2 separate regions of the Homo sapiens genome follow, and region 1 is linked to region 2. A link means that fine-mapping ties the variant in region 2 to the expression of a gene that starts in the linked region. Tissue or cell type: whole blood. Region 2 holds a variant in brackets; the other region holds the start of a gene. All regions are shown on one strand. Distances are from middle to middle.

Region 1 (5,222 bases), 29 kb after region 2:
TGAGGGGCAGCTACAGGGGCCTGGGGAGCCACTGCAGTCCTCACTGCATGAGGCTCAGGCGGGTCCTCCCAGAGGGGAGTAGGAAGAGCAGGTCTGGCTGTGTCCAGCAGGCTGGGCCCTCTCTGGTGACCTTTGACCTCACAAGGCCTCTTTCCCCAGCCCTGTGGGGAGGCGTTGGGGCGTGAGGTTGAGAGAGACAGAGTGGCCTGGCCTGGCCTGCCCTGTGAGCTGGGTGAGTTGGCACTGATTCTGGAAGATGGACGTGAATGGGCGTGGTCACTTGTCGCTAGGTGAGTTGCTGGGAGATGGGCCTGCAGCGTGGTCTTGCTGGTGTGAGGCTCCAGGGATTCCGGGGTGATCAGAGCGTGGGTCCCCAGATTGCCTTTGGGTGGCGACATCTAGACTGCTCAGCCTTGCAGCCATGCTTCTGCCCAGAGGGATAGGACACCCACAGTATGAGAGACACAAACACAGTGCGACAGCCAGCCTGTGGGCAGGAGAGCTGCCCTCAGAGCCAAGATGAAAAAAAGAGAGTAAGAGATGGAAGAGGAAGGATGAGAAAAAGAAACACAGAAAGGGGCGCACAAACAGAAAAAAAAAAAAACAAAAACAGAAATTGACGCCAAGAAACAAGAGATGCCAAAATAGATCTAATCATAGAAAGAGGCCACACGCAGTGGCTCGCGCCTGTAATCCCAGCACTGTGGGAGGCCGAGGCAGGAGGATAGCTTGAGGCCAGGTGTTCAAGACCAGCCTGGGCAACATAGGGAGACCCTGTCTCTACAGAAAATACAAGTTAGCTGGGTGTGGTGGCGGGCGCCTGTAGTCCCAGCAACTTGGGAAGCTGAGGCAGGAGAATTGCTTAAACCCAGGAGGCGGAGGTTGCAGTGAGCCGAGATGGTGCCACTGCACTCCAGCCTGGGCGACAGAGCAAGACTCTCTGTCTCAATTAAAAAGAAAAAAAACAAAGAAAGAAAGTAGGCAGCTGGCTCAGTAGCTCATGCCTGTAATCACAGCACTTTAGGAGACAGAGGTGGGAGGACTGCATGAGGCCAGGAGTTCAAGATCAGCCTGGGCAATATAGCAAGACCCTGTCTCTACAAACAATTTAAAAATTAGCCAGGTATGGTGGCACACACCTGTAATTCCAGTTACTCAGAAGGCTAAGGTGGGAGGATCACCTTGACCTACTGGTCAAGGCTGTGGTGAGCTACGATCACACTGCTACACTCCAGCATGAGTGATAGAGTGTCTCTCAAAAAAAAAAAAAAAAAAAAAAAAAAAAAAGACCAGCATGGTGGCTCATGCCTGTAATCTGAGGCAGGTGGATCGCTTGAGCCCATCTACTCGGGAGGCTGAGGCACCACAGTCACTTGAACCCATGAGGCGGAGGTTACAGTGAGCCGAGATCGTGCCACGGCACTCCAGCCTGAGCAACAGAGCAAGACTCGGTCAAAAAGAAAAGACGAGACAAAGAAATAAAGTACGTTTGGGGGTTCACAGGGCAGGTCTCTATAATGTGATAGAACCTCCATTATGTCCCATACAGCCCAGGAGTATCACCATCAAAGACCAGGAGTGTCACTGTCAAAGCCCAGCAGTGCCCTCCATACTCCAGGACTGTCCCCATATCACGGCCCCGGAGAGACCCCATCATACCGCAGTCTGCCCTTGTCACAGCCCACACATGACCCCATCACGTCTAGAACTGCCCCCTTTATAGCCCAGGACTCTCCCCCATCACAGACCAGGGCTGTTCTATGATGGCCCAAGATGCTCCACATCACAAGTCCAGATTGTGCCTGTAACTTATCAGAACTGGTCCCCAGCAGAGCCAAGTACTGTCCCAAACAGCTCAGGAATGTCCCCTATCCAAAGCCCAGCACTTTTCCCCATTATAACCAGCATTGTCTCTGCCAAATATCAGGGCTTATTTCCTATTCACCAGGTCTGAAATTAAAAAAAAAAAAAAAATCCCATTGTTGTCTTTTTCAATCCCCAGGACTATCCCTATGTTGCTGTCTAGGCCAGTACCTTCCAGACTGTCCCTACCATGGTCCAGCACTGTCCTCTCCACACCCCGGGACTGTCCCCATCACAGCTGAGGACTCAGCCCAATTATCTCCATTACAGGATATCTCTATCTTCATCAGAGCCTAGGAATGTCCCATCATGAGTTCAGGGCCATTCTATGACACCAGAACTGTGCCATGATGAGACGGTCCACATCAGTCCCAAGTGGACCTGTCAAAGCCCAGTACTGCCCCACCACAGTCCAGGAGTGTCACCACTAAAGCCCAGATTGCCCACATACCCCAGGTATCCCAGGACTATCCCTATCAGTCACTAAGAGCCGAAAAAAGTGAAATTCTGCCCTGACATTCATCAGCTAGGATAAGAGACTCAAATAAAGTCAGGTGTAAAGTTAACAGACAGTTCTCCCAAGGTTACACCGCAGCTGTGAAGGCTTGTAATGACCCCTTTCTTTGGCTGTTTCCTTCCTCACTGAGAAACCTTGTTCTCTGAAATCATAGACTCTGGGAAACGCTGCTGCTGTTTGACATCGCACAGTCAGAAGGGATCGTCTCAGCCAGCCTGCAGCATCTGTCACTTTGACCATGAGACGCTGCCTCGATTTCCAATCCAGGTGCAAAGCTTCAGATAGGAGTTTGGGAAGCACAGCAATCCCCATCTCTTATTTTTTTCAACTTTCATTCCAAGAAAATAGGACCTTGAGTCCAATTCCCAGAGCTGAGACTTGAGGTCCAACTCTGCCTTCACCTGCACCCGGCCCTGGAGGTCTGGGCCCCTTTATTCCAGCTCCCGCACAGGCTGATGCCCCACCGCACCCCAGGGCTCCGCTCCCCAAATCACAACCTCCCCACCCCCACGCCTCCCTCATTACAGGGTCCTCCACCATGTTTCCCTTTTTTTTTTTTTTTTTACCTCCCCGCCAATTACTTGCCCCACCTCATCCGCGTCTACCTGCTCCCCCTCACCCCATTAAAGCCTCGTGCTCCTTTCCAAAGGGCGCCATCCTCCTCCGCGCCCTGCAGCGGAACCCCAGGGCGGGAGGAGCGGCGCCGAGTCGGACCGGCTGCAGGCCAGTGGTCTTCCCGGAAGTGCGCCTCCCCCGGTTATTTCCCAGACCCCGGCGCGGGGCTGCGAACCCACCTGCCCCAGAGCGGCTGCGGCCATGATCCGTGCGGCGCGTAACTGTGCCCGCCCGGGGCGCGGCTCCGAAGAGAGACGTTCCGGCCACGCCCCGCTCACGCCTCCTTCTGGGGGAAGGCGGCCGACCAGCGCCCCAGGCCGTCCCAGCTCCAGGGCGTCGGCAGGGAGCCGGACACTGCTGCGGGGCGCAGGCGCTGGTGGGAGGGCAGGACTTGAAATACGGTCCCTGCCAGGCGAAGTGGCTCAGGTCTGTAATCTTAGCACTTTGGGAGGCCGAAGCGGGCGGATTACCTGAGGTCAGGAGTTAGAGACCAGCCTGGTCCAACATGATGAAACCCCGTCTCTACTAAAAATACAAAAAATTAGCCGGGCGTGGTGGCGGGCGCCTGTAATCTTAGCTACTCGGAAAGCTGAGGCAGGAGAATTGCTTGAATCGGGGAGGCAGAGGTTGCAGTGAGCCGAGATGATGCCACTGCACTCCAGCCTGGGCGACAGAGTGAGACTCCGTCTCAAAAAAAAAAAAAAAAAAAAGTCCTGGCTTGGTGGCTCACACCTGTAATCCCAGCACTTTGGGGGCCAAGGCGGGTGGATCACCTGAGGCCAGGAGTTCAAGACCAGCCTGGCCGACATGGGGAAACCCCGTCTCTACTAAAAATACAAAAATTAAGGCCAGGCACGGTGGCTTACGCCTGTAATCCCAGCACTTTGGGAGGCCGAGGTGGGCGGATCACAAGGTCAGGAGTTCAAGACCCGCCTGACCAACATGGTGAAACCCCGTCTCTACTAAAGATACAAAAATTAGCCGGGTGTGGTGGTGTGCGCCTGTAATCCCAGCTACTAGGGAGGCTGAGGCAGGAGAATCATTTGAACCCTGGAGGCGGACGTTGCGGTGAGCCGAGATCGCGCCACTGCATTTCCAGCCTGGGTGACAGGGTGAGACTCCGTCTCAAAATAAATAAATAAATAAAAATAAATACATAAAAATACAAAAATTAGTCGAGCGTGGTGCCGGGGGCCTGTAATCCCAGCTATTCGGGAGGCTGAGGCAGGAGAATCGCTTGAACCCGGGAGGCGGAGGTTGCAGTGAGCCGACATTGCACCACAGCACTCCAGCCTGGGCGACAGAGTGAGACTCCGTCTCAAATTAAAAAAAAAAAAAAAAAATCGTATCCCTCGGCCATCGTGTCTCGGCAATCCTACCCTGGGACACTCTGTCTCCAAATTCTACCCCCACAGTGCCCCCAAGTCCTGTCCCCGGGTCACTATCCTGCCACCCCTAACAGCCACAGGCCCAAACAGCCAAACCGCGGGACCCTTCCCTCACAGGGCGTCGCCCTGTTTTTCTGCGCTCCGCCCCAGTCCTCCTGCCCCACCCGCCAGCCCCGGGCTGTAGGGTCGGGGCCCACTGACAGCTCCCGCCCCCGCCGCGGCCAATCAGCGGTTGGTGCACACGCCCCCCCGGCCACAGCCAATCCGCAGCAGCCCTGCAGCTCCACCCCTCACCTGGGGGACGCCAGCGCACCCGGGCCCTGCCCCCCCCCTGGGTCCAGCTGGGGAGTCTGCGTCCCCCAGTGCCCTGCGGACCAAAACCCAGGAGTTTCAGCCCCTCCTCCCTCTGATCCAGATGTCTCAACCCCCTACTTTCTCTTCCCTTTGGACTTTTCTTGCCAGCCACCTTCCTATTCTACAGGCAGTGAGAGGAAAACTCCTTTTCCCTGAGGGCCAAGAGTAAGAGGGCCTTCTGCGTCTCCCCCTCCATTACCTCCTAATTAGCGCTTAATTTACTCTCCCCTGCGGGCCTTTAGTTAGCGCGCTGGTGAAGCCAAACCGCTCTACCCTTCCCAGGAGCCCCTGGCGACAGCGACAGGGCTAGCAACATCAGGCACCTGCTTGCTGCAAGGCCTGGGGTTGGGGGGCGGGGGGAGCTGCAGTCCTTCAGGGTCGAGGCAACTTGTGGGTCTGGGGTGCAAGGGCTAAGTGGGGCAGAAGGACTCGTCTAAAGGATGGGAAATAAATATAACGATATCCTCCTCCTTCTGGCTGCAAAT
Region 2 (5,222 bases):
ACAAAGACTGCGGCTTCCATCGTGGTCTCTCTCTCACTCTCTCTTTCATCACTTGCTCTGGGAGAAGCTAGTGGCCAAGACACGAGGAATGCCCAAGCAGCCCATGCAGACATCAACAGCCAGCGAGGAACTAAGGCCTCCAGCCAACAGCCCTGTGAGTGAGCTCGGATAGGCCAGGCTCAGTGGCTCACACCTGTAATACCAGCATTTTGGGAGGCCAAAGCAAGTGGATAACTTGAAGCCAGGTGTTCGAGAACCAGCCTGGCCAACATGGTGAAATCCCGTCTCTACTTAAAAATACAAAAAATTAGCTGGGTGTGGTGGCACGTGCCTGTAATCCCAGCTACTCGGGAGGCTGACGCAGGAGAATCACTTAAACCTGGGAGGCAAAGGTTTCAGTGAGTGGAGACTGTGCCACTGCACTCCAGCCTGGGCAACAGAGTGAGACTCTGAGACTCTGTCTCGAGAGAAAAAAAAAAAGAGGGTTCTCCAGCCTCTGTCGAGCCTTCACATGACTGCAGTCCTGGCTGACAAGCTTGACTGAAACCTGAACCAGGAACACCCAGCCGAGCTGCTTGGGATTCCTGACCCTCCAGAAACTATGTGAGAAGGCCAGGCACCATGGCTGACACCTGTAATCCCAGAACTTTGGGAGGCCGAGGCAGGCAGACCACTTGAGGTCAGGAGTTCAGGGCCATCTCTACTAAAAATACAAAAATTGGGAGGCCGAGGCAGGTGGATCACGAGGTCAGGAGATCGAGACCATCCTGGCTAACACGGTGAAACCCCATCTCTACTAAAAATACAAAAAATTAGCCAGGTGTGGCAGTGGGTGCCTGTGGTCCCAGCTACTTGGGAGGCTGAGGCAGGAAAATGGCGTGAACCCAGGAGACAGAGCTTGCAGTGAGCAGAGATCATGCCACTGCACTCCAGCCTGGTGACAGAGCGAGACTCCGTCTCAAAAAAAAAAAAAAAATTAGCCAGGTGTGGTGGTAGGTGCCTGTAATCCCAGCTACTAAAAAAAAAAGAGAGAGAGAGAAGGGAAAAAAAAAACTATGTGATACAATAAATATTTGTTGTTTAAGCTGTGAGGAATTAACTCAGGGGTAATTTGTTAGACAGCAATAGATGACTACTACACTGCTATCTGCATCCAACCGGCAGGTAGAGAAAAGAGAGAGGGCACATTAGAAGTTCCCTAATGGGTGTGGCTGGAAGTGAGGCAGGGCTCTTCTCATTGGCCAGAACCACTCACATAACCCCAGTGACTTGCAAGGGGTGCTGGGAGATATAATCCCCCCAGGGGCACTGTCACACAATAACAAATATATATTTGGTCTCTGTCCCCCCAGTTTCTGGGACAGAGCTTTGAAACCCCTTATAATTTCCCCAGTGTTAGGGATGCCAGCAGCATCTTTTGTTCTAATATTTGATCTTTGACCCCAGTTCCCGACAAAGGGCTCCTAAATCCCTTGGAATTTCCTGAGTAATGGGAGCATCATTTTTTCTTTTTTCTTTTTATTTTCTTCTTCCCTTTTTTTTTTTTTTTTTTTTTTTTTTTTTTGTTTGAGACAGCGTCTTGCTCTGTCACCAGGCTGGAGTGCAGTGGTGCAATCTCCACACACTGCAACCTCTGCCTCCTGGGTTCAAGCAAGTCTCCTGCTTCAGCCTCCCAAGTAGCTGGGACTACAGGTGCCCGCCACCATGCCTGGCTAATTTTTGTATTTTTAGTAGAGACGGGGGTTTCACCATGTTGGCAAGGTTGGTCTGGAACTCCTGACTTCAGGTGATCTACCCCCTTGGCCTCCCAAAGTGCTGGGATTACAGGCGTGAGCCACCACACCCAGCTGAGAGCACCTTTTTTTCTAATGAGGTGACTCTTGGTGGGCTCCTGATGGGGGCTGATCACCAGCAAGACTCAGTCAATATTAGAAGCATGGAACCTGTAGCCCCATCCCACTCCACATCTTTCCGGAAGAAGAGGGAACTGGAGCTGGAATTACTAATCTATCCTACTTATGCGCTGAAGTCTCCATAAAAGTCCCTAAAGTATGGGGGTGGGAGAGGTTCCTTGTAGCGTCCAGCCCTACAGGGCCTTGTGGGTTTTCTCTTCGTGTGTGGAGATGAGAGATTGTAGAAAGAAAGACATGAAACTAAGAGAGAGTATGAAAGACAGCTGGGCCCAGGGGGCCACTACCACCAGTGCATGGAGTCCATTAGTGGCCTCGAATGCCTGGACTGCTGCTATTTATTGTATACAAGGCAAGGGGGCAGGGTAAGGAGTGTGAGTCATCTCAAATGATTAATAAGGTCAAGCAAGTCACGTGTCCATGTGACAGGGGGCCTTTCCCTTTTTGGTAGACGAAGCAGAGAGGGAAGACAGCATACGGTCAGCATTTTTTCTATGTACTTATCAGAGAGATCAAAGACTTTAATATTTTCACTATTTCTGCTACTGCTATCTCCCAGGAACTTAAAAGAGGAACCAGGTGTACAGGCGGAACATGAAAGTGGACAAGGATCATGACCACTGAAGCACAGTACCACAGGGAGATGTTTAAGCCTCCGGATGACTGTGGGCAGGCCTGGCTAATGTCCGGCCTCCCACAAGAGGCTGGTGAGGCAGAGTGTTCTCTAACTCCCCCAAGGAAGGGGAAACTCCCTTTCCCGGTCTGCTAAGTAACGGGTGCCTTCCCAGGCACTGGTGCTACCACTAGACCAAGGCGTCCTTAAGCCCTTATCTGGGCGTGGCGGAGGACTTTCACTCTTGTCTTCTGGTCACATCTCACCATGTCCCTTCAGCTCCTGACTCTGTATCGCCTGGTTTTTCCTCAGTTATAATAATAAAACAGAGATTAATACTAAAACTAATAATTGATAATATCCATATATAATCATCTCTATATCCTATTGCTAGTATAACTTTTCTTATTCTAAGTATTTTCTTTATTATATTGAAACAGTATGTGCCTTCAATCTCTTGCCTCAGCACCTGGGTGGCTCTCTG[C/T]CCACAGTTCCGGGCGGGGAAGCACCCCAACTCCATGGAGACGCCCAACCTGGAAGCTCCCCCAAACCCATCCTTTGCTCCCGTGCTCGGGAGGCGTTCAGATGTTGCCCTTTGCACCTCTTTATCTGACAGGTTTTATTTAATTATATGATAAACTGATAAATGTGTTTTCCTTAGTTCTGTGAGGCATTGTAGCAAATTTCTGAGCCTAAGGAGGGAGTCATGGGAACCCCCATTACTAGCAAGTCAGAAGCTCGGGTGAGACCACGTGGACTTGTGATTGGCATCTCCCAAGGGGCAGCCTCGTGGGACTGAGCCTTTCACCTGTGGGATCCGATGCTATCTCCAGGTAGATAATGTCAGAGTTGGATTGAATTGTGGGACACCCAGCTTGGGTAGGAGAATTTGTCAGCGTGGGAAAAACCCCACACACCTGGTCACAGAAGTGTTGAGTGTGAGCCTGAGAAAAACAGGTGTTTTTTTCTAGATAAGATCCATGGAAGGGGAACACAATTTTTTTTTTTTTTTGAGACAGCTCTCTGTCGCCTAGGCTGGAGTGCAGTGGCGCGATCTCGACTCACTGCAAGCTCCGCCTCTCGGGTTCACGCCATTCTCCTGCCCCAGCCTCCCTCCTCCCGAGTAGCGGGGACTACAGGCGCCCACCACCACGCCCGGCTAATTTTTTGTATTTTTAGTAGAGACGGGCTTTCACCGTGTTAGCCAGGATGGTCTCGATCTCCTGACCCTGTGATCCTCCCGCCTCGGCCTCCCAAAGTGCTGGGATTACAGGCGTGAGCCACCGCGCCCGGCCAGGGAGCCTTTAATGAGTTTAAAAGTTGTTGCATTCTTTCCTTTGCTAAATTTGGTTTCACGGGGAACACATTTCCTGGCCCCTGGGATTTGGGTGTGTATCCTGGTCTGTGACGCAGGCCAGGGGCTGGCATGTGACGCGAACCGGGGGCCACTTCCCGAAGCAGGTCAGCGAGAGGCACTCTGGAGCTGTTGCCCAGCCACTAGTGACGTCATGGGCTTTCAGTCATTCCTATTGGGTGCTCTTAGTGCTCTATCCTCAAACTCCGCAACCGGCCCTTGGAAAAGACTCTGAACTGAGGCTTCTGGAAAAAAGAATCCGAGCTTCCACGTCATTTCAGAAATACCCCCCTCACCTTATTTATTTATTTATTTATTTATTTATTTATTTATTTATTTATTTATTTATTTATTGAAACAAGGTCTGACTCTGTCGCCCAGGATGGAGGGCAGTGGCGCGATCTCTGCTCACTGCAACCTGGAACTCCTGGACTCAAGCGATCCCCCACCTCAGCCTCCCGAGTATCTGGGATTACAGGTACTCGCTACCACGCTCAGCTAATTTTTAAATTTTTTGTAGAAATGGGGTTTTGCCATGTTGCCCAGGCTGGTCTCGAGCTTCTGAGCTCAAGCGATCTGCCCGCCTCGTTCTCCCAAAGGGCTAGGATTACAGGCGTGAGCCACCGCGCCTGGCCCCCAAATTCTTTTATGTTTATAAATTTAAACTGTACGCCGGGCGTGGTGGCTCACGCCTGTAATCCTAGCACTTTGGGAGTCCAAGGCAGGTGGATCACCTGAGGTCAGGAGTTCAAGACCAGCTGACCAACATGGTGAAACCCTGTCTCTACTAAAAAATACAAAAAATTAGCTGGGCGTGGTGGCACACGCCTGGAATCCCAGCTACTCGGGAGGCTGAGGCAGGAGAATGGCATGAACCCAGGAGGCGGAGGTTGCAGTGAGCCAAGATCGCACCACTGCACTCCAGCCTGGGCGACAGAGCGAGACTCCGTCTCAAAATAATAATAATAATCATCATCATCATCATCGTCATCATCATCGTCATCATCAGCCAAGGGAAAACGTGGATGGGGCAGAGTCCAGGAGACACCAGGCGTGAGCTTTCAGATGTCCTCCCCCAGTGGAGTTCTAGACAGTGCTCAATTCTCCCGGTAATGACGTGTGCCAAAACGCATGCAGTATTGCCAACCAGGGAGTCTCACCCCAGATCTTAGGATGAAAAAAAAATTTTTTTTTTTTTTTTGAGTCTTGCTTTGTCACCCAGGCTGAAATGCAGTGTCATGATTTCGGCTCACTGCAGACTCAACCTCCCAGGTTCAAGCTATTCTCATGCCTCACGAGTAGCTGGGATTACAAGGGTACGCCATCACACCTGGCTAATTTTTTA

What was found. PIP is the estimated chance that this variant, and not a neighbour inherited with it, causes the effect.
Region 1: BCAT2 starts here. The variant in region 2 is the best candidate, but not a certain one, in a credible set for the expression of BCAT2 in whole blood (INTERVAL, PIP 0.77).

What each region holds. Positions count from the first base shown.
Region 1 is chr19:48,807,810-48,813,031 of GRCh38, forward strand. BCAT2 (branched chain amino acid transaminase 2) reads right to left here and starts at 3,220. Exons shown (of 11, transcript NM_001190.4): 1 at 3,175-3,220. The coding sequence starts at 3,198. It overlaps LOC105372432 (a long non-coding RNA gene), which reads left to right. Exons shown (of 3, transcript XR_936017.4): 2 at 160-290; 3 at 2,535-3,028. It overlaps HSD17B14 (hydroxysteroid 17-beta dehydrogenase 14), which reads right to left. Exons shown (of 9, transcript NM_016246.3): 9 at 5,209-5,222. RefSeq lists enhancers at 2,800-2,869, 3,143-3,437, silencers at 3,190-3,409, 4,486-4,795 and a cis regulatory region at 4,299-4,839.
Region 2 is chr19:48,778,603-48,783,824 of GRCh38, forward strand. No RefSeq gene overlaps it. Among named protein-coding and RNA genes, the nearest start is that of FGF21, 26 kb to the left of the region's middle. RefSeq lists a cis regulatory region at 2,186-2,826. The variant C/T (reference allele first, on the strand shown) is at 3,008.